7 linked regions of the Homo sapiens genome follow. The protein of the gene in region 4 purifies or fractionates together with the protein of the main gene of each other region. This does not show direct contact. Each region holds a gene or a part of one and is shown on either strand. Other genes may lie near its edges.

The links.
Region 1: the proteins of TEX28 (region 4) and TMCC1 purify together in Homo sapiens (co-immunoprecipitation; 3 studies listed by BioGRID and IntAct, with this or other methods). This does not show direct contact.
Region 2: the proteins of TEX28 (region 4) and TMCC2 purify together in Homo sapiens (co-immunoprecipitation; 3 studies listed by BioGRID and IntAct, with this or other methods). This does not show direct contact.
Region 3: the proteins of TEX28 (region 4) and RTF2 purify together in Homo sapiens (affinity purification with mass spectrometry; 2 studies listed by BioGRID and IntAct, with this or other methods). This does not show direct contact.
Region 5: the proteins of TEX28 (region 4) and BLTP2 purify together in Homo sapiens (co-immunoprecipitation; 3 studies listed by BioGRID and IntAct, with this or other methods). This does not show direct contact.
Region 6: the proteins of TEX28 (region 4) and ZNF865 purify together in Homo sapiens (affinity purification with mass spectrometry; 2 studies listed by BioGRID and IntAct, with this or other methods). This does not show direct contact.
Region 7: the proteins of TEX28 (region 4) and TMEM201 purify together in Homo sapiens (affinity purification with mass spectrometry; 2 studies listed by BioGRID and IntAct, with this or other methods). This does not show direct contact.

Annotation. Positions count from the first base shown.
Region 1 is NC_000003.12:129,883,712-129,887,211, reverse strand, and holds part of TMCC1 (transmembrane and coiled-coil domains protein 1), read left to right. Parts: intron 1-3,500. UniProt on the Homo sapiens protein: Endoplasmic reticulum membrane protein that promotes endoplasmic reticulum-associated endosome fission.
Region 2 is NC_000001.11:205,226,689-205,230,745, forward strand, and holds the start of TMCC2 (transmembrane and coiled-coil domains protein 2), read left to right. Parts: upstream 1-1,257; 5' UTR 1,258-1,876; coding exon 1,877-2,083; intron 2,084-2,242; exon of another isoform or gene 2,243-2,440; intron 2,441-3,026; exon of another isoform or gene 3,027-3,481; intron 3,482-4,057.
Region 3 is NC_000020.11:56,478,627-56,482,126, forward strand, and holds part of RTF2 (replication termination factor 2), read left to right. Parts: intron 1-3,500. UniProt on the Homo sapiens protein: Replication termination factor which is a component of the elongating replisome. Required for ATR pathway signaling upon DNA damage and has a positive activity during DNA replication.
Region 4 is NC_000023.11:154,292,325-154,296,302, reverse strand, and holds the start of TEX28 (testis-specific protein TEX28), read left to right. Parts: upstream 1-1,178; 5' UTR 1,179-1,273; intron 1,274-1,279; exon of another isoform or gene 1,280-1,297; coding exon of another isoform or gene 1,298-1,395; intron 1,396-3,978. Other genes in the region: TKTL1 (transketolase-like protein 1), read right to left, coding at 310-443.
Region 5 is NC_000017.11:28,624,659-28,628,158, reverse strand, and holds part of BLTP2 (bridge-like lipid transfer protein family member 2 isoform 1 precursor), read left to right. Parts: intron 1-3,500. UniProt on the Homo sapiens protein: Tube-forming lipid transport protein which binds to phosphatidylinositols and affects phosphatidylinositol-4,5-bisphosphate (PtdIns-4,5-P2) distribution.
Region 6 is NC_000019.10:55,604,399-55,608,446, reverse strand, and holds the start of ZNF865 (zinc finger protein 865), read right to left. Parts: upstream 2,801-4,048; 5' UTR 2,715-2,800; intron 1-2,714. UniProt on the Homo sapiens protein: May be involved in transcriptional regulation.
Region 7 is NC_000001.11:9,598,911-9,602,410, reverse strand, and holds part of TMEM201 (transmembrane protein 201), read right to left. Parts: intron 1,307-3,500; coding exon 957-1,306; intron 343-956; coding exon 139-342; coding exon of another isoform or gene 120-138; exon of another isoform or gene 1-119. UniProt on the Homo sapiens protein: Critical regulator of angiogenesis and endothelial cell (EC) migration. Promotes the migration of endothelial cells, which is essential for angiogenesis.

The sequences.
Region 1 (3,500 bases), on a different chromosome or scaffold from region 4:
ATTTGAAATATGTAGTTAACCATTTTAAATCTACGGTTAAGTGGCTTTTAGTTCATTCACAGTGTAACATGTGCAGCCACCACCGCTGCCAAACTCTAGAACATTTTCATCACCCCAAAAAGAAACCCCATACCTATTAAGCAGTCCCTCTCTTTGTTCCCTGGCAACCACAGTCTGATTTTTGTCCTATGGGTTTGCCTATTCTAAACATGTCACATAAATGGAATCATAATACCTGGCCTTTTGGGGTTTTTTTTGTTTATTTTATTTTATTTGAGACGGAGTCTCACTCTGTCTCCCAGGCTGGAGTGCAGTGGTGTGATCTCGGCTCACTGCAACCTCCGCCTCCCGGGTTCCAGGGATTCTCCTGCCTCAGCCTCCCGAGTAGCTGGGATTACAGGTGCACACACCACACCTGGCTAATTTTTTTTTTTTTTGTAGAAACGGTTTCACCATGTTGGCCAGGCTGGTCTTGAACTCCTGACCTCAAGTGATTGGTCCGCCTCAGCCTCCCAAAGTGCTGGGATTACAGGTGTGAGCCATTGCACCCGGCTTGCCCTTTTGTTTTTAGCTTCTTTCACTTAACAGTGTTTTTATTCATCCATGTTGTAGCAAGTATCAGTACTTCATTCCTTTCTTATGGCATAGTAATATTCCATTGTATGGATACACCACGTTTTGTGTACCTGTTCATCAGTAGGCTGTTCTGAATAATGCCGCTTTTTTGCTATTATGAATAATGCTGCCTTGAATATTCTTGTATAAGCTTTTGTTTGAACATACATTTTCAGTTCTCTTGAGTATGTAACCACTGTATTTCTTTTGATAAGTTTATTATCATATAAAGTAGAAAGTTTTCCAATGGCTTGACTTTGGATAAAGTGCTGAAAGAATGCTACTTTCTCCTGGAATATGGTATTCCTTAGTGAATACTGAAATCACATAATTTTCTTGTTGTCTTTATAGAATAAAGAATTTTGGTCCAGATAGGGTAACAGTAGGTAGCCTTCCTCTAGAATTCTGTCAGAAGAACATCCTGAGTTATGTGAACCATTCAGTTATCTATCTGAGAGCAGCAAGTGGTCTCTCACTGTGCAGTTGGGTTATGAGGTCTGCTAGTGGTCTCAAGCAGTCTCTGAGTGTATGAATTGCATTTAACATTATGTATTCAAGCCGGGCACAGTGGCTCACGCCTGTAATCCCAGCACTTTGGGAGGCTGAGGTGGGTGGATCATGAGGTCAAGAGATCGAGACCATCCTGGCCAACATGGTGAAACCCTGTCTCTACTAAAAATACAAAAATTAGCTGGGCGTGGTCGTGGGCGCCTGTAATCCCAGCTACTCGGGAGGCTGAGGCAGGAGAATTGCTTGAACCCAGGAGGCGGAGGTTGCAGTGAGCCGAGATTGCGCCACTGCACTCCAACCTGGTGACAGAGTGAGACTCTGTCTCAAAAAACAAACAAACAAAAAAACCTATTATGTATTCAGAGGGATAGTAGGCAGGATTCCCATTCTGTAATCTATTTGGCATCAGTGATGTTACAGAGATTTTATTCTAACCACATTCCCTCAGGTTTGAACTATAATAGAATAGCATCAAATATTGTTTTCCTTTTTTCTATTTTTTGAGATGAAGTCTCTCTGTCTCACCCAAGCTGGAGTGCAGTGGCACGATCTCAGCTCACTGCAACCTCTGCTTCCTGGGTTCAAGCAATTCTCCTGCCTCAGCCTCCCGAGTAGCTGGGATTACAGGCACCCGCCATCATGCCTGGCTAATTTTTGTGTTTTTGTAGAGACGGTTTCACCATGTTGGTCAGGCCGGTCTTGAACTCCTGACCTCAGGTGATCCTTTTTCTACTTCAACACCTGACCCCAAAGCTTTGTTCTGCAGTGATTGCTTTGACACCTTTGCTTTGACAAATTCATTTTCCTCAGGAAGACTTGGCAAAAGTTTTCTTCTTTTGCCAGTTTGGGACAACCTGACCAATTCATTGAAACCTATTGTTGTTTTTCAGATTTCTTGAAAACAAGGAACATTCTTTGCTGTAGCTTATTTATTTACTTATTTATGTAGAAACAGGGTCTCACTTTGTCACCCAGGCTGGAGTGCAGTGGTGCAATCAAAGCTCACTGCAGCCTGGACCTCCCGGGTTCAAGCAATCCTCCTGCCTCAGCTCCCCGAGTAGCTGGGACTGCAGGTGTGTCCCACCGTCTCTGGCTAATTTTTGCATTTTTTGTAGAGATGAGGTTTCACCATGTTGCCCAGGCTGGTTTTGAATCCTGCGCTCAAGCAACCTGCCTGCCTCAGCCTCCCAAAATGCTAGGATTACAGGTATGAGCCACTACGCCCTGCCTGCTGTAGCTCATTTGTAAATGACTTTCGAGTTCCATTGAGACAGTGAAAAAAATCGATAAATTATATATTGACCACCATTTTTTTTTATCTCAAAGAATTTCTCTGTAGGCAAGCCCTTCAAAGATTTTGAAAACCACTGTTTATGTAGTAGAATACTAAGCTGGAAACAAGGAGGTTTTAGTTTTAATTTTATTTCTTCAAAAGACTCTGTTATCAGACAAATAGCTTGTACTTTAGAGCTTCATTTTATAAAGAAGAAATAATATTGACTGTGATTTGTAGGAAAGTGTGATGGGAACTGAGTTCTAATTCTAATAATCAGGGTACTTTGAAGTTTGTGGAAGACAAGCATGTTGGAAGATATGTATAAATTCTTTTTTTATTTTATTTTGTAGAAATGGGGTTGCACTATGTTGCCCAGGCTGGTCTCCAATTCCTGGGCTCAAGTGATCCTCCCGTCTCAGCCTCCCAAAGTACTGGGATTACAGGTGTGAGCCACCATGCCCAGCCTGAAAATTCTTGATATTGCTTTTTTCTTTATTTTAATAATGTAAATGATTCTGCTCATACTATTATAAAAGTCTTTGTCCAGTATGCGTGTATATTTTGTTTATTCATATATTTTACCTTTTTTTGGTGCTCTTTGTTCTTTTGTATAGTTCTAGATTTCTGTGTGGTATGATTTTCCTTCTGATTGAAGGATTTCTAATGTTTCTTGTAGTGCACATTTGCTGACAATGAATCCTTTTAGTATTTGGACATCTGAAGACTTTAATTTGTTTTTAGTTTTCGAAACTGTTTTCACAGGATATGTAATTACTGTTGACGTTTCTTTATGATGCTGTTTCACCATCTTCTGGCCTGCATTGTATCCAATGAGAAATCTGCTTTCATTGGGTTTATTTTTCTGTATGTAATGTGTGGTTGTTTCCTTCTGGCTGCTTTTATTTTTCTTTCAAAAATATATTTTTTCTTTTTTTAATTTAATTTTTTTATTTCTAAAATAAAATAAAATAGACGCGAGGTTTCACCATCTTGTTTCACCATGTTGGTGAAACCAAGTTGGTCAGGCTAGTCTTGAACTCCTGGCCTCAAGTGATTGATCCCTCTTGGCTTCCCAAAGTGTTGGGATTACAAGTGTGAG
Region 2 (4,057 bases), on a different chromosome or scaffold from region 4:
TTAGAAAGTAGCTGCTTGGCTGAAGTAAATTCTTAACAAATTAGTCTCTTCTAGGATACACATTAAAATGAGTGGTTGGAATGGGAAGAAGACAGAACAGAAAGTCAAGAAACTCCGACTAGTGAGACTGAAGTGAGGCTACAATGGCATGATGGGTGCGAAAGAGATTGGTAAACTGTAAAATCCTTTAGAGACCGTGTGGCCCCTTCACTGTCTAGGCCAGTGGTTCTCAAAGGGTAGTGTGTGTCAGAATTACCTGGAGGGCTTGTCAAAACACAGATTTCTTGGCTCACTACTTCTGATTCTCTAGGTCTGGCTGGTGGCCAAGAATTTGCATTTCTATCAAGTTCCCGTGTGATGCTGAAGTTGCTAGTCCAAGGATCACAATTTGTGAACCACTGGTTGCTGGATGAGTAAAATCCATTGTGTCCACAGGAGGCATACAATAGACACTCAGATGGGGTTGTTATTATTACTACTCTCCATATCTTGGTAACCCCAACGTTTGCTCTCTTCTGCTTCCAGATTACTCAGCACAGTTTGGCTGAGATTTATGCAAAGAGAGACAGCATTCCCTTTCCACACATCTATATGTAGCAACCTCCTGCCATTAATACCCTTTCTTATTTAAAAGCTGCTTCACAGTTTGTAAGGAACTCTCACATACGTTATTGTGTTTTTATATGAAATTCTTCCCAATTTCTGAGCATAAATTATGCCAAGTAAAGTCTCATTAAGAAATAATGCACTTAAAGCGGGGGACGGGGCGATGAGGAGAGAACGCCCCCTCCCCTTGGCATTTGCAGCTCTGAATGTAGGCATAGATTTAACTCAGACCAAGTATCCTAGAGGGGATAGGTGTCTCCCTTATGGCTAGAAGGTGCAAAGTTAAGAGCCCCAAAAAGCAGTGATAATAAACATCCCTCTTGTGCTCCTTCTCGCCAAATAAAGCGAATGGGTGGAGGAAATCCTGGGCGAGCCCTCCTCGGCAGGGTCCCTCAAGCTGGAGCCGAAACTGCGACTCCCACGCCCGCCGCCCCCGCCCCTGAACTGCAGCCCGCTCTCTGCAATGCAAAAACGCAGCAGCATCGTCCTCCAGCCCTCTCCTGGGGGATCGCACGGTGCAACCAACCCCAAAAACGAAGCTGCGCGACGCCCCCTCAGCCCCGCGGGCTTCCCATTGGCCGGTTGCCGCTGTCACTCCCTCCTAGCCTCGCCTTCCCGCTCCCGGGCGGAGGCAGCCGGGCGGGGTAGGTTGCGCGCTCGCCGCGGGCTCGGGCCGCGGTCGCGGCTTTGCGGCAGGCTGCGCGTCAGGCGGGGAGCGGGGCGCGCGGGCCGGGGAGGGGGCCGGGCGCGCTGCGGGCTCCGCGGCCGGACCATGCGGGGCAGGGGCCGGTTGCAGGGCCGGGGGCTGCAGCCGGCGCCGATGGCGGCCGACTAGGACCTGCCCGGCCGGCTGCCCCGCGCCCCGCCTCGCCCCGCAGCCCGGCCGGCCGGGAGGGATGCGCTGTGCCGCCCAGCTCCTCTCCGTCCTGCCCATGCCCTGAAGCAGAAAGTTTGGGGGCCGGGGGTTGTCTCCCTTCTCCCTCCTGCAATGACTGCCCAAGGACTCTTGCTGCCCAGCCTCGACTGTGACCTGTCTTCGCTCCCCAGGTCGAAATGAACTATTCCAAGCTATAACCAAGGCTCCCCCTTCTCGCCCCTCCCTCACCCGCCTTTAAGAATTTTTTTTTTAATTCAAGAAATTGTGGTCTGCCATCTCCCCTCCTTGTTAATAATTTAGACCCCAGGCCTCATATGAATATAAGAGGGGGTGCGGTCTTCCCCAAGACGGCGCGCTGGAAGGACAGATTCCCCTTGCCGACCCACATACACCATGAAGAGGTGCAGATCGGACGAGCTGCAGCAACAACAGGGCGAGGAGGATGGAGCTGGGCTGGAAGATGCCGCTTCCCACCTGCCGGGCGCGGACCTCCGGCCTGGGGAGACCACGGGTGCTAACTCTGCTGGCGGGCCAACTTCAGACGCCGGCGCTGCCGCGGCGCCCAACCCAGGTCCCCGAAGCAAGCCTCCTGATTTAAAGGTGAGCGCAGACCATCCCCCCGGCAAGCCCAGCCCGCGACTTAGCTCTCGCCACCCCACGCAGAAGTGCTTTAACAGGATAAAAGTGAGGGGGGAAGCCAGGCAAAGGTCAGAGAGGATGAGCGGATGCTTTGCTGGCACCCCAGGGGGGACGTCAGGTACCATTTATGCCTCTGTCTTTCAGCTCCGTGTCAGGTCTCTGTGTTTGTTCCCCATTATTCAGCAAGCGTTTTAGTGACTCACCCATCCGAGATTGTTTGAATAATGTGTGAAGTGTTATTCGCAGACAAAGGGCTGGAGAAATCCAAGATGCTAACCAAAAAGTGGACAGCAGGTGACCATTAGTTTTCCTTGCTGAGTAAGTCTCTACCCATTGGGATCTTTGTGTGTGTGTGTGTGTGTGTGTGTGTGTGTGTGTGTGTGTGTGTATGTGTGTGAGACGGAGTCTCGTTCTGTCGCCCAGGCTGGAGTGCAGTGGCGCGATCTCGGCTCACTGCAACCTCCACCTCCTCGGTTCAAGCGATTCTCCTGTCTCAGCCTCCAGAGTAGCTGGGATTACAGGCACCCGCCACCACGCCCGGGTAATTTTTGTATTTTTAGTAGAGACGGGGTTTCGCCATGTTGGCCAGGCTGGTCTTGAACTGACCTCAGGTGATCTACCCGCCTCGGCCTTCCTAAGTGCTGGGATTACAGGCGTGAGCCACCGTGCCGGGCCCCATTGGGATCTTTGAGCGCTTTCCTGGATGAAGCTCAGTTTGCCGATCTGTGAAGGGGCGGGGGGGGGGGGGTGGTGGCGGGGGCGGGGGGGGAAGGTGGATTTCCTGCCGTTAGGTGGAGCCAGAGGTTAAGATAGTGCTTGGAGATCTCTGCCTGCCTGCTGAACCAACCCCCAGGGTGGAGAACTGACAGGTGGTGGAGCAGTGCTTGGGCTGGTTTGGGGCCTCAGTTCAAGTTGCATACATGCTGAGCCAGCAGCTAGAACCAGAAGCCGAAAGAACTGTTCACATGGAGCTGTTTATTTTCCGGCCTGAGGTTGCCGAGACAATTGGCGAGCTGTCTTGAATATATCTCTATCAATTAAAACAGCAGCTGAGATAAATAATGCACCTTTGCCGGAACTGCCACAGGGACTGCAGGCTCAGGCTTCTCAAGCCAGCTCACCGTCCAGCTGAGCGAGATGTCAGCCCAAGGAAGGAACTTAGATGCCTTGGAAATTGATGCCTCACAGTTATTTTCTCCAGAGAAGGTGCAGGGTCTGGGCTAGGGAAACGGAAAGGACTCTGTTGCATTTAATAAAGCCTATATCCTATGGCAGCAGCCACTAAGGAGCTCACCAGAATAAGCCAATGCCATTCCTCATTTGGCCTGAGCAGCTCAGAGTCAGGAAGTCAGAGCGCAGGTGAGTGTGTGTGCTCTTACCTGTGTATGTTACCTGTCTGTGTGCCTTGGGGAGGAGTGAAAAGGGGGACGACTAGGTTATTGTTGTGTGTGTTTTTTAAACTTTGCAGTAATTATTCAAATCTGAACTCTGGTTCTGCCGCCGTCCTTTTCAGAGCTTCGTGGCTAGACTTATGTCTAGAGGATCTCTGTGGGATAGGCTCTCTCTGCACAAGAAGCTTGAGCTTTTGCCAGGCCCAGGGAGTCCTTGGTGTTTATCTCTGCTGTCACCCCCGAGTCCATCCCATGTGGTCAGGAGGTGTAGTTCCTGTTTTAAGTGAGATGGTGAGGGGGAAGGGGTCTCTTGAATGCTGTTGTGGGGAGGAGGCTAGCCTTCTGCTGCAGACTTCAGCCTCATTCTGAGCCGGTCCAGATGAGTCTGGCCAGCAAACCCTGAATCTTTGACCAATGAGACCCTCAGCTGAGTCTGTGAGAGGCAGCTTTGGAAATTCCCCACTCTCCAACTCAGGACAGCAGTGGAAACTGCTTTCTCCATTTATTCCCCCAGTTGCCTTCATGAGGAAGATGGGTTGGTCAT
Region 3 (3,500 bases), on a different chromosome or scaffold from region 4:
CATCATCTTTTTGCTGGTGGAGCCTTGATGTTGCCTTGATGTCGATGGCTGCTAACTGATCAGGATGGTGGTTGCTGAAGGTTCGGGTGGCTGTAGCAGTGTATTACAGTAAGACAGCAATAGAATTTGCTGCATTGATTGACTCTTTCATGAAAGATTTCTCTGTATGTAGCATGTGATGCTGTTTAATAGCATTTTACCCACAGTAGACCTTCTTTCAAAATTGGAATCAGTTGTCTTAAACCCTGCAACTGCTTTATCAATTAAGCTTATGTAATATTTCAAATCTATCATAACAATATTCACAGCATCTTCACCATGGGCAGATTCTGTCTCAAGAAACCACTTTCTTTGCTCATCCATAAGAAGCAACTCTTCATCCATTTGGGTTTTATCGTGAGATTGCAGTAATTCAGTCATCTTCAGGCTCCACTTTTCTCATTCTCTTGCCATTCTACCACATTTGCGTTACTTCCTCCACTAAAGCATTGAACCCCTCCAAGTCGTCCATGAGGGGTGGAATCAGCTTCTTCCAAACTCCTATTAATGTTGATATTCTGCCCTCCTCTCATGAATCACAGATTTTTTTTGTTTGTTTTTTGTTTTTTTGTTTTTTTGAGACGGAGTCCAGCTCTGTTGCCCCGTCTGGAGTGCAGTGGCACAATCTCGGCTCACTGCAACCCCCACCTCCTGGGTTCAAGTAATTCTGCTGCCTCAGCGTCCCGAGTAGCTGGGATTACAGGTGCCCGCCACCGTGCCCAGCTAATGTTTATATTTTTAGTAGAGACAGGGTTTACCATATTGGCCGGGCTGGTCTCAAACTCCTGACCTCAGATGATCTGCCTGCCTCAGCCTCCCAAAGTGCTGGGATTACAGGTGTGAGCCACCACAGCGGGCCAAATCACAGATGTTCTTAATGACATCTAGAATGGTGAATTCTTTCCAGAAGGTTTTCAATTTACTTTGCCCAGATCCATCAGAGGAATGGCAGAGGAAGCCTATGGCAGCTATAGCCTTATGAAATGTATTTTTAAATAAGACTTTAAAGTCAAAGTTCCACCTTGATCCATGGGCTGCAGAATGGTTGTTGTGTTAGCAGCCATGAAAACAACTTTAATCTTGTACATCTCCATCAGAGCTCTTGCGTGACCTAGGTGCATTATCAATGAGCGGTGATATTTTGAAAGGAATCTTTTTTTTTTTTTTTTTTGAGCAGTAAGTCTCAACGCTGGGCTTAAAATATTCCGTAAGCCATGTTATAGACAGATGTGCTCTCATTCAGGCTTGGTTCTTCCATTTCGAGAGTACAGGCAGAGTAGACTTACCATCATTCTTAAGAACCCTAGGGTTTCCAAACGGTAAATGAACATTGGCCCAACTGAAAGTCACCAGGCACGTTAGACCTTAGTGAGAGTCGGCCTGTCCTGATGCTTTGAATCCAGGCATTACTTCTCCTTTTTAGCAGTAGAAGTCCTGGATAGCATCTTCTTTCAACACAGGGCTATTTTATCTACACTAAAAATCTGTTGTCTAGTGTACCCATCTTTATTAATGATTTTAGCTAGATTTTCTGGAGAACTTAATGCAGCTTCTCCATCAGCACTTGCTGCTTCACCTTGCACTTTTATGTTATGGAGACGCCTTCTTTCCCTAAACCTCATGAACCAACTTCTTCCAGTTTCCACCTCTTCCTCTGCAGCTTTCTTGCCTCTGTCAGCCTTCATAGAATTGAAGAGAGTTAGGGCCTTGCTCTGGGTTAGGCTTTGGCTTAAGGATCTGTCACTGTGGCTAGTTTGATCTTCTGTCCAGGCCACTAAAACTTTCTTCATATCAGCAATACGGTTGTTTCACTTTCTTACCATTCATCTGTTTATAGAGTGGCACTTTTAATTTCCTTCAAGAACTTTTCCTTTGCATCCACAGCCTGGCTAAGTGTTTGATTTGAGAGGCTGGATTTTGGCCTGTTTTGGCTTTGGGCCTGCCTTCCTCCCTAAGCTTAATCATTTCTAGCTTTTGATTTAAAGTGAGAGACATGCAATTCTTCTTTTACTTGGACACTTAAAGGCCATTGTAGGGTTCTCAATTGGCCTAATTTCAATATTGTTGTGTCACAGAGAATAGGGAGAACTGAGAAGGAGAGAGATGGGGGAATGGCCAGTTCATGGAGCAGTCAAAACACACACATTTATTAATTGAGTTTACCATCTTATAAGAGTGTTGTTCCTGGCACCCCAAAACAATTACAAAAGTAACATCAAACGTCACTGAGCACAGATCACCGTAACAGATGTAGTAATCATGAAATCATTTGAAATATTTGAGAATTACCAAAATGTGACACAGAGACATGACGTGAGCACATGCTGCTGGGAAGATGCTGACACACCTGCCAGATGCAGGATTGCCGTGAACCTTCAGTCTAAAATAATCACAATATCTGCAAAGCGCAATAAAACAAGGTATGCCTATATCCTTAATAGCTGGTAGTCCAGACTGCCCTCTGGAATCTTCTGTTAAACACACAACATACTGAAAGGTAGCATTTTTTATTACTTTCATTCAGGAAAGGGGTGGGGCAAAGCATCTCGAGTAAGTAAAAATGGTTTCATTGAACTTTAAACAGCAGTATTTAATCCTGAGCATTCTGGCACATTGGCGTCTGTTTATTTAACAGGTGTACATGGACACCCTCTCAGTGTGCCAGGCCGTGTTGCGTGTGGCAGACTGTGCGAGGGGAACTAACTGTCCTGTTCTGAAATGGAACAACGAGGGGCTTCATGGATTTGGAGAGAAGTACAGTTTAGGGTCCAAGGACCTTTTGCTTTTAAATATTACACTCTTCTTCAAATAATCTGAATTTAAACCGCTTAGGGCTCTCTTTTAAACCACCATTGGGGTCAAGTAAGACATATTCTGGGGAACCAGACTCATTTACCTAACCATGTCCCACTTCTGTATATGTGTGTGTATGTGTGTGTGTTTGCATATATATATACACACACATATACACACACGTATGTATATGTTTGTATTTCAGGTGAAAGTCACATAAAATTGGCCATTTTAAAGTGTATGTTTCAGTGGCATTTAGTACATTCACAGTGTTGTACGGTCACCACCTCTATCTGGTTCCAGAACATTTTTATCACCCCAAAAGGAAAATCCTCTGCCCATTACATAGGTACTCCCCATTGCCAGTCTGTTTCTGTCTCAATGGATTTACCTCTTCTGGATATTTCATATGCATAGAATCATACAATATGTAACCTTTCGTGTTTGGCTTCCCACTTGCTTTTAAGAAAACTAGCTCACCCCAGAAGAGGAACTTAGCAGAAACGAGCTCCACAATGGGGTCTCGAGTAGGAGTCCCCTGCAGCCTGTTGCTCTGATTGTGGCTTCCCCTGTTGTTTCTCCTTTGGTTTGCTGGTCAGTCTCTTCTCCTTTTTCTCTTACCCAGTGAATTGAGCTTTGCTTATTTTGACTTTGTCCATCTGTTATTG
Region 4 (3,978 bases):
TCTGGATCCTTTGTCTCCCAACTGGAGATCTTGGCGACCTCCAGAACTTTGGCCGTGGGTAAATTGAGGGGCGGGCTCCAGAACCCGCGGCTGACCAACCAACCGACCGACCCTTGGGTTGGCGGGAATAGTGCCTCGCTGCCATCTAGGGTGCTCGACCGGGCCCCAACAGCCCAAGACAGGGCATTACGACACAGCCCATTGTGCCTCTGAAGGCTCTCCCTTCACCACACGGCCTCATGGCCACCAGGCCTGAAGCCACCGGGCCCGTGGCCCTGCATGACCCAGACTTCAATGAGGAGAACTTACCCGGAGCTCGTGGAGCATGTGGCCCTGATGGAATGGATTCGCAAGCGGCTGGCCATATCTTGCAACACCTGCAAGGTGCCCCTGTCAGGTCTGGCCTCCTCCGGGAACTCAGCCCTCGCCTCAGCATCCGCCATTAGTCCAACCCCTTTGGAGTCTGAAGACCCACTCCTACGTCTCCGGCGTCTGAAGAGCGAATGGCGCCTGCGAGCTGCCCAGTGCGTTTATGTGATGTCGGTGCAGCTCCCTCCGCATGCCTCGTGCCACTCCCTCCACCTGCCGCTCCCTCCGCCGGCCGCTCCCTCCGCAAGCAAGTCAAGGGATCTGGAATGTTTGTGACTTGCATGTGCACAGTTATTGAAAATAGTCCCATTCTCATCTTCTCTCCTGCAATCTCAAAAGGGCTCCCTCCGCGCGGGTGCAGGGTCTTCTTTCTCTGCACAAAAAGTTCCGGCACTAGCTGTGTGGTGCCGCACGTGTCAGGGGGTGGTGCCGCACGTGTCAGGGGGTGGTGCCGCACGTGTCAGGGGGTGGTGCCGCACGTGTCAGGGGGTGGTGCCGCACGTGTCAGGGGGTGGTGCTGCACGTGGGACGTGCAGCTGCAACCGTAAAGGTGGGGGAGGGAGGGAGCTGCTGTGGCGCAATTTTTTGTTTCGTGATAAATGGTCACCCCTCCCCCACAACAGCCCAGGCTATGGCGGGCAGGGTGGGGGTGGGGCAGTGCTCAGGGTTCTGAGACGGTTGGCGCCTGCGCCAGCCTCCTTTCCTTTTTTAAAACATTCTATGAGGCAAGCCCCGTGTGATTGTTGAGGAGGAGTTAGCCCATTGCCAGCCTGTGACGTGACTGACTCGAATGAACCCTGGTAACTAGGGAATGTGCTCGCCCTGTGTCTGAAATGCCCCATGTCCGGTGGTGCCAGCACTAGCCCCCATGTCGGTCTCAGAGAACCTTCTCCCCACCTCTGAGGTGACCTACCGACCCAGAACTCGCATGGCTCCCAACGGCGCCAGCTCCACAGCGCCGTGCCCAAGTCCAGACATTCCGGATCCCAAGTGCTGTCTCTTGGTTCAAAAATGCCGAATTTCTACGTGAGCTCAAGTCAGGCCGCCTGGTCGCGCCACAGGCTGAATGCCCTTGGGTTCCCATGTTCTGCTGGGTTAAAGGGAATGTGTGTTTACATTTTTTTTTTTTTTGAGACGGAGTCTCGCCCTGTCGCCCAAGCTGGAGTGCAGTGGCTCGAACTTAGCTCGTTGCAACCTCTGCCTCCTGGCTTCAAGCGATTCTCCTGCCTCAGCCTCCTGAATAGCTGGGATTACAGGCATCCGCCACCACACCTGGCTAATTTTTTGTATTTTTAGTAGAGACGGGTTTTCACCATGTTGGCCAGGTTGGTCTCGAACTCCTGACCTCAGGTGATCTGCCCACCTCGGCCTCCCAAAGTGTTGGGATTACAGGTGTGAGCCACCATGCCAGGCGGTGGTGGGCACCTGTAATCCCAGCTAATGGGAATCTGAGGCAGGAGAATCACTTGAATCCGGGAAGCGGAGGTTGCAGTGAGCTGAGATGGCGCCACTGTACTCCAGCCTGGGCGACAGAGCAAGACTCCGTCTAAAAAAAAAAAAAAAGTGGCTGGGCACAGTGGCACACGCTCCTGTAATCCCAGCACTTTGGGAGGCCAAGGTGGGTGGATCACCTGAGGTCAGGAGTTCCTGACCAGCCTAACATGGAGACACCCCGTTTCTACTAAATACAAAAAAATTAGCTGGGTGTAGTGGCACATACCTGTACTCCCAGCTACTTGGGAGGCTGAGACAGGAGAATCGCTTGTACCTGGGAGGTCGAGGTTGCGGTGAGCCAAGATCGAGCCATTGCACTCCAGCCTGGGCAACAAGAGCAAAACTCTGTCTCAAGAAAAAAAATTTAACAGGCCACCTAATTGCGATTAAAAAAAAACCAAAACCCTGAATCTGTTTAGATTCCCACTTGCAGGGTATGTGACATCACCTTCTGCCACATTCTCGCCAGCCCTGGACATTGTTAGGCTTTTTAATTTTTGGCGTTCTGGTGGATGAGAAAATAGTATTTAATTGTTGCTTTTCGCTTACTATTCCCGGATCACCTTGCAATTACATGTTTTATTATACGTTTACTGTCTTTTGTTTTTCGTCGTCTGAGATGTCCGTGGCTACCCTTTAATGTCTTTATATTGGGTTATTTGCTCTTAGTTTACTGATTTGCAGTTCTTTATATATTGTGTTGATTAGCCCTTTATCTATCAGATATGTTTCAAGCCTTTTTTTTTCTTGTTTGCTTTTATTTATTTATTTTTTGAGATGGGGTCTCAGTCTGCCACCCTGGCTGGAGGGCAGTGGTGCGATCATGGCAGCCTCGACATCCCCGGGATCAAGCGATCCTCCCGTCTCAGCGTCCTGGGTAGCTGGGACTACAGGTGTGCACCACCACTCCAGGATAATTGTTGTATTAATTTTTTTTTTAATAGAGACGGGGTTTCGCCATGTTGCCCAGGCTGGTCTTGACCTCCTGAGCTCAAGAGATCCACCCACCTTGGCTTCCAAAGTGCTGGGATTACAGGCATGAGCCAGCACACCCAGCCCTTGTTTTTTTTTCTCCCCCTTTCTTTCTTTCTTTTTTGTTTTTGTTTTGATTAATCAAGTCCCATTTTTTTCTCCTCTTGGTTATTTGGATGTTATGTACATATGTAGCTTCTTTTCTAGTGATTACTTTTTTTTTTTTTTTTGAGACAATCTCACTCTTGTCAGTCAGGCTGGAGTGCAGTGGCGCAGTCTCGGCTCACTGCAACCTCCGTCTCCCCGGCTCAAGCAATTCTCCTGCCTCAGCCTCCCCAGTAGCTGGGATTACAGGTGTGTGCCACCATGCCCGGCTAATTTTTGTATTTTTAGTAGGGACAGTGTTTCGCAGTGTTGACCATGATGGTCTCAAACTCCTGACCTCAAGTGATCCACCCGCCTTGGCTTCCCAAAGTGCTGGGATTACAGCTGTGAGCCACCACGCCCGGCCCGGCCCCCCCCCCCCGCTCTTTTTTTTTTGAGACAAGGTCTCACTCTGTCACCCAGGTTGGAGGGCAGTAGCACAGTCACAGGTCACTGCAGCCTCTACTTGCTGGGCACAAGTAATCCTCCTGCCTCAGCATCCTGAGTAGCTGGGACCACAGGTGCACACCACTGCCCTGGCAAGACTTGCTTTTTAAACAGTTGTTGAATTCTTACATTTGTCAGTGGTGTACTGAACTCCTTCATGTCTAAAAATGTCTTTAGTCTAACCCCACAGTTGACAGTTGGGGTGTAGAATTTTAGGCTGGGAAATCATTTTTCCCTCAGAATTTCGAAAGCAGCACTTCATTGTCTTTTTTTTTTTTTTTTTTTTTTTTTTTTTGGGACAGAGTCTTGCTCTGTCGCCCAGGCTGGAGTACAGGGGAGTGATCCTCGGCTCACTGCAACCTCTTGGGTTCAAGCGATTCTCTTGCCTCAGCCTCCCGAGTAGCTGGGATTACAGGCGCCCACCACAATGCTGGCTAATTTTTGTATTTTTAGTAGAGACAGAGTTTCCTCATGTTGGCCAGCCTGGTCTCAAACTCTTGACTTCAAGTGATCCGCCTGCCTGGGCTTCCCAGAGTGCTGAGATTACAGGTG
Region 5 (3,500 bases), on a different chromosome or scaffold from region 4:
GAAGTGAAACTATTATTTTTCCTTCTTAGGCCACCTAAGTCTTACATATTAAGTAACAGTGATGTTGGGGCATTAAATGGTCTGGTCCTATGGCCAGAAGAGAATCAGAAGGGGAGTGTTGGAGCCAAAACAAGATGAGTAAGGGAAAGAAGCAAAGTGGTAAATGCCATAAGAGAGAAATAAAAGAAAATGGGAGTTGGATGGGCACAGTGGCTCACTCCTGTAATTCCAGCACTTTTGGAGGCCGAGGTGGGTGGGTCACTTGAAGTGAGGAGTTCAAGACCAGCCTGGCCAACATGGCAAAACCCCATCTCTACTAAAAATAATACAAAAAAAATTAACCAGGCATGGTGGCAAGTACCTGTAATCCCAGCTACTCGGGAGGCTAAGGCACGAGATTCGCTTGAACCCAGGAGGTGGAGGTGATAGAGCAGGACTCCATCTCAAAAAAAGAATATGGGGCCGGGCGCAGTGGCTCACGCCTGTAATCCCAGTACTTTGGGAGGCTGAGGTGGGTGGGTCAGGAGATCGAGACTATCCTGGCTAACACGGTGAAACCCCATCTCTACTAAAAATACAAAAAAATTAGCCGTGCATGGTGGCGGGTGCTTGTAGTCCCAGCTACTTGGGAGGCTGAGGCAGGAGAATGGCATGAACCTGGGAGGCAGAGCTTGCAGTGAGCCTAGATCGCACCACTGCACTCCAGCCTGGGCCACAGAGCAAGTCTCTGTCTCAAAAAAAAAAAAAATGGAGGTATTGCTGACAGGAGTGAAGGGGGGAATACCATCAGGGGAGGGTTTATTGAGGAAGTAGCATTTGAGCCAGGCCTTGAAAGCCTAGTATGGTTTGAACATGTAGAAATGGGGTAGAAGGGCAATCAATGCAGAGGGAATAATCTGAGTAGGAGTGGAGTTTGAAAGCCTAGTGCGTTCAAAGCAGAGTCTTGAGTGGAAAAACCCAAACTCAAAAGTGTTTTTTCTATTCCCTCACTCGAAAACAATTGACACAGAAGACTTCTGTGACCAAATGTGTGGGAATTTTTCCCAACCAATAAGCAAGCAATTAATTCTGCAGTGGACACCAGTTGGGTGTCCTCTAATTCAGTTCAATTCTGACACTATCTACCCAGGGACAGCATCAGATTCCAAAGGTTGACGACTCAGTCTCTAAGCCCGCCCTTCTCCTTCATATGCCAGTCACAGGCTCCAGGTTGCTTTATCTGTGCTTCTCACCAACTGGCTATAAACGGGTTCCCACAACCCCCTCCTTGGGTTCAATTAATTTGCTAGAGCAGCTCACAGGACTGAAGGAAACATGTTTACTGGATTACTGTAAAGGGTATTACAAAGGATATGGATGAAGAGATGCATAGTGCGAGGTATGGGAAGTGGCGGGAAGCTTCTGTGCCCTCCCCAGGCAGGCATGCTATGCCCCAGGAACCTCTACGTGTTCAGCTATCCAGAAGCTCTCCAAACCCTGTCCTTTTGGGTTTTTAATGGAGACTTCATTATGTAGGCATGATTGATTAAACCATTGGCCATTGGTGATTAACTTAGCCTTCAGCCCCTCTCTTCCCAGGAAGTGTGGGTTGGGTGGGGGGCTGAAAATTATAACCCTCTAATCCTGCCTGGGTCTTTCCAGTGACCAGCCACCATCTGGAAGCTACTTAGGGGCTGCCAGCAACTAGTCAACTCAGCACACAAAAAGACATCACTTAGGAGGCACTAATGATTTTAGATTTTATATGCCAGGAAGCAGGGAAGACCAAATATATATTTCACAGTATCACAGAGAGTAAACAGTCTCTTTTAGTAGACAGAGAGTAACTAAGGGAGAGGAGTGAGAGAAAGGACTGGAAAGGAAAGCTGGGGTAGATCATCAAAGACCTTTCATATAGGGCTAAGTAGTTTTTGGTCCTTGTACAGTAGGCAGTGGTGAACTACTGAATGTTTTTGAACATGGGTGTGTCATTGTTTTACTTTTATGAAGACAGATCTGGGAGTAGTGTGTAGGAGGATTGGAGAGGAAGAAACTGGAGGTGGGGAGACAAATTAGGAAACTATCATGGTGTCTCAGTAAGAAGCATTGAGAACTGGGGCCAGGCATGGTGGCTCACGCCCGTAGTCCCAGCACTTTGGGAGGCCGAGGCGGATGGATCACGAGGTCAGGAGCTTGAGACCAGCCTGGCCACCATGGTGAAACCCTGTCTCTACTAAAAATACAAAAATTAGCTGGGCATGGTGGTGTGTGCCTGTAATCCCAGCTACTCGGGAGGCTGAGACGGTAGAATTGCTTGAACCTGGGGGTGGAGGTTGCAGTGAGCCGAGATTGCGCCATTGCACTCCAGCCTGGGCAACAAGAGTGAAACTCCATCTCAAGGGAAGAAAAAAAAGCATTGAGGGCTAGAACTAGGTAGAGGCAGTGGGAATGGAGATAAGATGGATGGAAAGATTAAGATGCATATGGGTGAACTGACCACTGGTTGGAAGGAGGAGTTTAAGGGAGAAAATTATAACGACTAGATTTTGAGCCTGATGACTGGCATGATGGTAACAGTAATATCAGAAATAGAGCCTGAGACTAAACAGGTTTGGGAGGTGTAGGATTGTTGAGTTCACATTTGGGCATGCTGAATTTGCGTCACTAGTAAGGTATCAATATAATGTCTAACAAACAGCTGGAAATTAGAGTCTAAAAGCTTAGGGCTAAAGATAGATATTTGGGAATTTCAGCATAGAGGTAAGAGAATATTTTTATGTATTTTTCCATTTTTTCTTTTTTCTTTTTCTTTTTCTTTTTCTTTTTTTTTTTTTTTTTTTTTTTTGAGACGGAGTCTTGCTCTGTCACCAGGCTGGAGTGCAGTGGTGCAATCTCGGCTCACTGCAACCTCTGCCTCCTGGATTCAAGCTATTCTTCTACCTCAGCCTCCCAAGTAGCTGGGATTACAGGTGCATGCCACCACACCTGGCTAATTTTTGTATTTTTAGTAGAGATGGAGTATCACCATGTTGGCCAGGATGGTCTCAATATCCTGACCTCGTGATCTGCCCACTTCAGCCTCCCAAAGTGCTGGGATTACAGGCGTGAGCCACCGCGCCTGGCCCCGTTAAACTTTCATAGCAATCTCATGAGAGAGTTACTCTTTTACAAACAAGTAAACTATGATGCAAAGAGGGCAGACTGCCCAAGGTCACAATACAGGCAGACTAGTCTGATTCTGGAGACTGTGCTCTTAACCATACACTCTGTTAGACAAACCCATTAAGAGAAAGAGTAGGAAAGAGAAGGGAACATGCCAAGGATGGATCTGAGGAGCTTAGACCTGGGAGAAGGAAGAGGGCCTGGAGACATAATCAGGGGAAGCAGCAGACCTCAGAGAATATAATGACATTGATGGCAAGAGAGTGGTTTCAAGTGGAAAAGAGTGGTCAAATAACATGTAAAATAATATGAAATGAAAAAAGAAATAAAATGGGGGTAAGGGAGAGATCATAGAGTAA
Region 6 (4,048 bases), on a different chromosome or scaffold from region 4:
GCTACTCGGGAGGCTGAGGCAGGAGAATCACTTGAACCCGGGAGGCGGAGGTTGCAGCGAGCTAAGATCACACCACTGCACTCCAGCCTGGGCAACAAGAGCGAAACTCCTTTTCAAAAAAAAAAAAAAAAAAAGCCACAGTCCTTACAATGACCTCCACAGTCTCCTGGCTGCTCTTCCCATGTGCCCACTCTATTCCTGCTGCAGGGCCTTTGCGCTGGCTGTTGCTGTTGCCTGTAATATTCTGACTCTCAGGCAACCATCTCGCTCACCCCTTCACCTCCTCCCCATCTTTGGTCAACTGTCTTCTCAATGAGCCTCTCAGTAACCAATGACCTGTCACCCAGGCCCACATCCTCATCTCCCTAACCCTGCTTCATTTCTCTCCTTACTGCTCAGCATCATTTATAACCTCACATAATCTACTTCTTTGCCTTGATTTTGTTGGTCTCCCCATCCAGATGATCGGCTTCCTGAAGGCAAGGATTTTTATCTCTTGCTCACTGTTCCATCCCCAGGACCTACAACAGTTCCTGGCTTGATACATTTTTGTTTGAAGAAGTGAATGAATGAGGCTAGGAAAGGAGGGAGTGATTTGCTCAAAGCTGTGAACCCTAGTGGAATCCAGGGCTCATCCTCCCAATCACTTCGCTCCTGGGGTTAGGGCGCTGTTAAGAGCAGCCCCCAAGTGGGCCACAGTTGTCCAGGAGAAGGGGAATTTTTACTCTTGTATAACTTTTTGGTGTGTGGCTTTTGGGAGGGACAAGATGACAAGACATAGGAAAATCCTGGGGGAGGCCATCCTGAACCACAGCCCCCCAGGTCTATCTCTTTATCCCGTGATATTCTGAACACGCACATATACTCTTGGTTTTTGTTTTTATTTTTTTTCACTGCAGCCTCGAACTCCTGGGCTCAAGCAGCCCTCCCACCTCAGCCTCCTGAATAGCTGGGGACTACAGGTGCCCACCAACCACACCCAGCTTTTTTTTTTTTTTTTTTTTTTTCCTGTAAAGACAGGGTCTCACTATGTTGCCGAGGTTGGTCTTGAACTCCTGGCCTCCAGCGATCCTCCCACTTTGGCCTTCCCAACTGCTGGGATTACAGGCATGAGCCACCTCGCCTGGCCTGTATTTTGTCTTTTAATCATCTGCCCCCTCAACTAGCATATCCACTCCATGAGGACAGGGATTCTTGTCTATTTTGTTCTCTGTTGTACCCCCAATGTAAAGTAGGTGCTCATTAAACAGTTGTTCAACCAGTGTTTACGAATGAACGTATGAATGAATGAAGAACATTCTGGGCTCGGTAGAGCTGACAAAGGCTAGATAATTTATCCCAGTGCCCTCACCTCCAAAGCCTTTTGAGACCAAAGCTTCCTTCCTCTTGTTCTTGCCTTCAAATCTTCCACTCCACCCTCACCGGCCTCCCCTGCTGCTCCTCCACTCACCGTGCTCACCGCCACTTCAGGGCCTTTGCACTTGTTGTTCTTGCTGCCTGCTCACCCAGATCTTTGCATGGCTAAGCTGCCACTTGTAATTCAGCTTTCACCTCTAAAGTAGTTCATCAGGCTCTCAGAGAACCCACAAAACCCCGTGTATCTTTGTCGACTCGTGTCTGATCAACTAGACTGTGAGACCCCGCACAGTGAGAACACTGTGTGTATCGACCCCCTTCGTGGCTGTATATTATACCCTTCAGCTAGAATAGTGAATATGCGTTCAACGCAGAAGGAATGCCTACGAGAAAAGAAGTCACACCCTAGTGAAGTCCAGGGTCTTCCCTAGGGAGTCCAGGACGATAGCCTGAGAGCTGGGTGAGAAGCTGCAGGTCAGGGCAACAGTTGTTCACGCCATAGGAAGAGGATGAGGCACATTCTGGGAAGGAAGGCTTCACCGCCTCACTGCGGGACACTGTTCTGTGGCAGAAGTAATGAAGACGGGCTGACCGCGATGAGGGTGGGGTGAGAGGAGGTACGGGAGTATGTCATGGGAGCCTGGAGCTAAGCAGGCGGATATTTCTACCTGAGGCGGGAGAGGATGTGAGTGTGAAGGAACTCTAGAGGGAGCTGTGCCGCTGCGATGGGGGGGTGGCTTTGAAAGGGGCATTCTTAAGGGGAATCACTGGAGGACCTGCAGAAGGGAAAAAGGCATTCTTGGTGCTGACCAGAATAGAAAGTATTTTCACACCCACGAAGGGGCGTTCTGCTGGGGAGGGAGGTGGTCAGGGCCATTGGGGGCTGTTGCTGTATGGACAGAGATAACGGGGGACAGTTCTGCTGCAAGGCACTAAGGAAACACTCTGGGGAGAATTATATAGAGGATACTAATAAGAGGGTTCACGAGCAGCTGCCCTACATGGGGAGGGGCAATGCTGATGGCATCTGGAGGCTGACCTGGAGGAAGCAATGACGGGGAGCGCTATGTGGAGGGGATCCTACGAGGAGGTATCATTTGGGGGCCCTGGCAGCCGTTTAGGGGATCGCCACGAATGAAAGCGCTTTGGCAGCCATCCTAGCTGGGGGCGTTCATGGGGGAGCTATCTGCAGTGATCCTACCGGGGAGCAGTGATTGGGGGTCCCTTGGCAAGGGCCCGGCGGGAGCTGCACTGACTTGCTAGGGGTTGGGGGACGTTCTGGGGACCACAGCGGGCCAGGGCGGGGCCCCCCGCCCCCGCTGCACCCGGGCCCCCGGGCCACGCACCCCGTCACTCACCGGCGCCGGGGTCTCCGCCGGGAGGAGGCCGAGGAGGCGGAGGAGGCGCCGCCGCTCCGGGGAGACCCGAGGGCCCGACCGGAAGTGCCGCCCCCTCCCCCCTCCCCGGCAGCCCCGCACCGCCCGCCTGCCCGCCCGCCCGGAAGCGGAAGTCGCGCCCGTTCCCGAGGCGCCGGCGTGGAGGATCGGAAAGAGGAGGCGGTGGCGGGGACCAGGAGGGGGGAAATGCGCTTGCGCACTGACTCGGGGACGCGAGCAGTGAAAGCCCGGGCCGATTCCGGTGGGCGAACTGAGCCAGGTGCGCCTGCGCTTTGAATGCCCGCCTCTTCTACGGGAACCCCGCGACACGCTCTGGGCGTCCGGTTAAGCCACACCTCCGGCTCGGGTCTCACACTGAAGCCCCGCCCCCTGGCCCTGAACCACGCCCATCTCACAGCGTGATTATAAGCCCCCTACTGCCTCAAAGTCTGTCTTCGTCCCCTCGCCCTCATGCAGTTTCTCCTGTTCTTCCCCCTCTCCAAGCTCCCACTCTCTGGAACTTCACCCCTCCCTAGGCCCCGCCCCCTCCATCCAAGCCCCGCCCCTTCACCCCATAGCATTTAAGTTGCACCTCGTGACTTTTGAGTGCCTCCCACCTCTAAAGCATTCTTTTAAATCGGTGGTTGTCAAGGATAGTTGGGAGGCCAGCAGCATCCGGCTGCCTGCTCAGACCATGCGGAATAGAAGCCCTGGGGTTGGGGGTCTAGGGATCCGTGTTTTGAAATACTCTGATTCTGCTGCATGCTGGTCAAGAGCCATGGATTTACCACACTTGACACTGCCCGCTCATATAATCGCTATAATCCCGGCTCCCAACTCAGCCCCATCCCAAACAGCCAAACCCAGACCCATTCAGCCCCTCCTGCTAAGCTTCCACTCTCCCAGGAACTTCCCTTAGATTAAGTACTTCCTTCTCTCCCCATCGCCTCCATAGCAGTCGTGCGCCCCCATCAGCACCTTCTAAGTCCCACCTCCAATACCCTGTTCCCTCAGAGTTTCTCCTTTAAGCCCCGGCCCCCGGCCCTCGGCCCTGAACCACGCCCACCTCAGAGCTGAATTATTATAAGCTCCGCCCCTCACCTTAAAATCCGTTCTCTTGGCCTGGCGTGGTGGCTCACGCCTGTAATCCCAGCACTTTGGGAGGCCAAGGCAGGCGGATTGCTTGAGCACAGGAGTTCAAGACCAGCCTGGGCAATATGGCAAAACCCCGTCTCTACAAAAAAAAAAAATACAAAAATTAGGCTGGACGCGGTGGCTCACGCCTGTAATCCCAGCACTTTGGGAGGCCGAGGCGG
Region 7 (3,500 bases), on a different chromosome or scaffold from region 4:
TGGGGCTGTAGGGTGGGGGTGGGAGGGCGTGAGCAGGTGAAAAGAGGCAGGACAGAGAGGGGCCCGCTTCGGACCTGGCAAAGCCTGGGCCTGAGCATCCGTGTGTCCTCCCCCCGCAGTCATGGCTGCTTCTCTGACCTTCGGGGCCGGAACCTCCGTGGGCCCGTTGCCTTCCTTGTGGCCACAGCCGCCGTGAAGCCAACCAGGCAGCACAAAGATGTGGTGCTGAACTTGAGCGTGTCTAGCCAGCTAGGCGAGGCGGCCTGCAGGTGCTGCTCAGCCAGGTGCAGCCCCAGCAGCAGGGCCCACAGGCAGGTGCAGAAGGCATCGATCCTCCGGAGCCTGAAAGGGAAGCAGCGGGGTCACCCCAGGGGAGGACAAGACCTCCTGGGTCCACGCCTTCCTTCCTGCCTCCTCTGTCTATACCTGGCCCTGCTCAGAAGAGTCCAGAGCCAGGGGACAGTGTGGGCTCGGAATCCCCTCACACTCACACGCTACCTGGCTCTGAGCAGGTGGGTCAGTGTTTCTCCTCAGCCTGTAAGTTCTAGCCTAAAACAGGGCTAAGGAAAATTCCTCCGAGTCGGTGAGCAGGGGCGACGGGGACACAGCACTCACAGGACATGCTCCCACTCAGGGAACCCCAGAGGCCCCCACGTGAGCCCCCACAACCCAGGAGGCAGGTGGTTATCGTCATCCTGATTTGACAGAGCCCGAGGAGGAGAGAGGAGGCAACCCGGCCCAGCCCACAGCGGGTGTGCACGGGGCTGGCTCAGAGGGCGTCTGCAGCCTCACCTCACCTACGACTCCCAGCCCCTGGGACCAAGCCTTGTACCAGTGACATGGTGGAGTTCAGCCTAGGGCTGTGCACCCAATGGGGTCTCTTGGCCCCCGCCCTAGACAGTAATCCAGCACACAGTCCCCTGCCCGCCAACTCCTGGCCCTGGCCCCATGCACACCTGATGCGGCCAGCCAGCAGCATTGCCAGCAGGCAGGTGAGTAGGCCCAGTGCCACGACGCCCGTCTGGTGGCTCTGCCCAAAGGCCCAGGCCTCACACAGCTTCTCCGCCATGTGCTCGGGGAGTAGGCCCAGCAACTGCCGCCAGCCCTCGGCCCCAGGGGTGGTGCCATTGTCAGGTGTGGCTGAGCCATTGCCACCAGGTGGCAGGGCCAGGGGCACAGTGGTGCCTGGGGCGAAGTGTCCGCTGGCCCCATACAGCGCGGTGGTCAGTAGGAAGGCGCAGGCCAGGAAGGCGAGGGCACGGAGCAGGATGACCTGGACCGGGGACTTCACGGCGGAGGAGAAGTTCTGCAAAGGAGGAAGAGAGGCGGGTTAGTGAGACGGCCACAGAGCCACCCCCAGCCATCACCGGTGCCAGTCTGTGCGGGGTTCTGGCCAGACCCATGTTCTCACACATCCTGGGCTTGGTTCAAAAACTCACCACTCAGTTCCACCGGCCCGCCTCACTTCTGGGCGGGGAGGAGTGCTGCTCTACCACCCTCTCCTTTTAAAGAAGACTTTCCATATTGTAGTGACCTTATTTTGGCTCACTGCAACCTCTTCCTCCTGGGTTTAAGCGATTCTCCTGCCCCAGTCTCCGCAGCAGCTGGGATTACAGGCGCCCACCACCACACTCAGCTAATTTTGTATTTTTTTTGTAGAGATGGGGTTTTACCATGTTGGCCAGGCTGGTCTTGAACTCCTGACCACAGGTGATCCACCAGCCTCGGCCTCCCAAAGTGCTGGGATTACAGGTGTGAGCCACCGCGCCCAGCCAAGTTGAGCCCCTTCCTTTACTCTGGGGAAGCAACATGCCCATGGGGCCACCTCCCTACCCTGCTCCCCAGGCCCCTTCATGTCATCCAGGGTGGGTGTCCCGGGAGAGTGACTGGTATCACCACGCGTTTATTATGTGCGTATCTGAGCATGGGTTTTAGGGGTGGCCCTCCTGTTTCTCAGCACTTTCCTGGCACTTGCATTCGTCCTCCTAGCAGCCTTGGTGGTGCACTCCTAAGCCCTGGACCCATTTACAGCTGTGGAAACCACACTCAGGGAAGCTGAGAAACTTGCACAGGGCCACGTAGAAAGCCCACATCTGGTATGCAGTGGCTCCAGGGTTTGAGCCCAAGACCATCTGGCTAAAACTAATTTTTATCATAGTACTCAGTTGATAGAATATTCTGGTTGTTTAAAAAATCTGGTATGGTAGCAAGGAGGTTAAGTAGTAAAATCTACCCCTACAAGGAAACTCCTATCCACCCCTTTGTGTCTCTAGATGTGACCTGGGTCTGATTGATATGTGGTTTCCAGTCTGCAGCTGGGACACAGCCGTGCTACCTCTGCCCTGCCACACGTCTGCACAGCAAGGCACCAGGTGGACCCTCTCCTGGGGCCTTTGGTTCTCATTCTGTCTGCCTTGTTCCTGGTCTGAATAACTTACTACTGTACTTTTAAGGTTAACTTTTGCCACAGTTATCTGTCCATTTATGTCAGCTCCAATTAAAATCACAATAGGGGCCGGGCGCAGTGGCTCACGCCTGTAATGTCAGCACTTTGGGAGGCTGAGGCGGGCGGATCACGAGCTCAGGAGATTGAGACCACGGTGAAAACCCGTCTCTACTAAAAATACAAAAAATTAGCCAGGTGCCTGTAGTCCCAGCTACTTGGGAGGCTGAGGCAGGAGAATTGCGTGAACCCGGGAGGCGGAGCTTGCAGTGAGCCGAGATCACGCCACTGCACTCCAGTCTGGGCGACAGAGCGAGACTCCGTCTCAAAAAACAAAACAAAACAAACAAAAAAACCTCACAATAGGAATTTTTGGTGAGAACTTCACAAAATGATGGAAACAGTTATTTGGAGGCCGGGTGCGGTGGCTCAGGCCTGTAATCCCAGCACTTTGGGAGGCCAAGGCGGGTGGATCATTTGATGTCAGGAGTTCAAGAGTTCAAGACCAGCCTGAGCAACAGGGTGAAACCTCGTCTCTACTAAAATATAAATATTAGTCGGCTGTGGTGATGCGTGCCTGTAATCCCAGCTACTCAGGAGGCTGAGGCAGGAAAATTGCTTGAACCCGGGAGGAAGAGATTGCAGTGAGCCGAGATCGCGCCACTTCACTCCAGCCTGGGCGACAGTGTGAAACTGTCTCAAAAAATAAAATTTAAAAATAAATAAAAGGCTAGGCATGGTGGCTCACGCCTGTAATCCCAGCACTTTGGGAGGCCAAAGTGGGAGGATCACCTGAGGTCAGGAGTTCAAGACAAGTCTGGCCAACATGGTGAAACCCCACCTCTACAAAAATATAAAAATTAACTGGGCATGATGGCGGGTGCCTGTAATCCCAGCTACTCGGGAGGCTGAGACGGGAGAATCGCTTGAACCTGGGAGGCAAGGTTATAGTGAGCCGAGATCGTGCCACTGCACTCCAGCCTGGGTGACAGAGCAAGACTCTGTTTAAAAAAAAAAAAGGACGGGTGCAGTGGCTCACATCTGTAATCCCAGAACT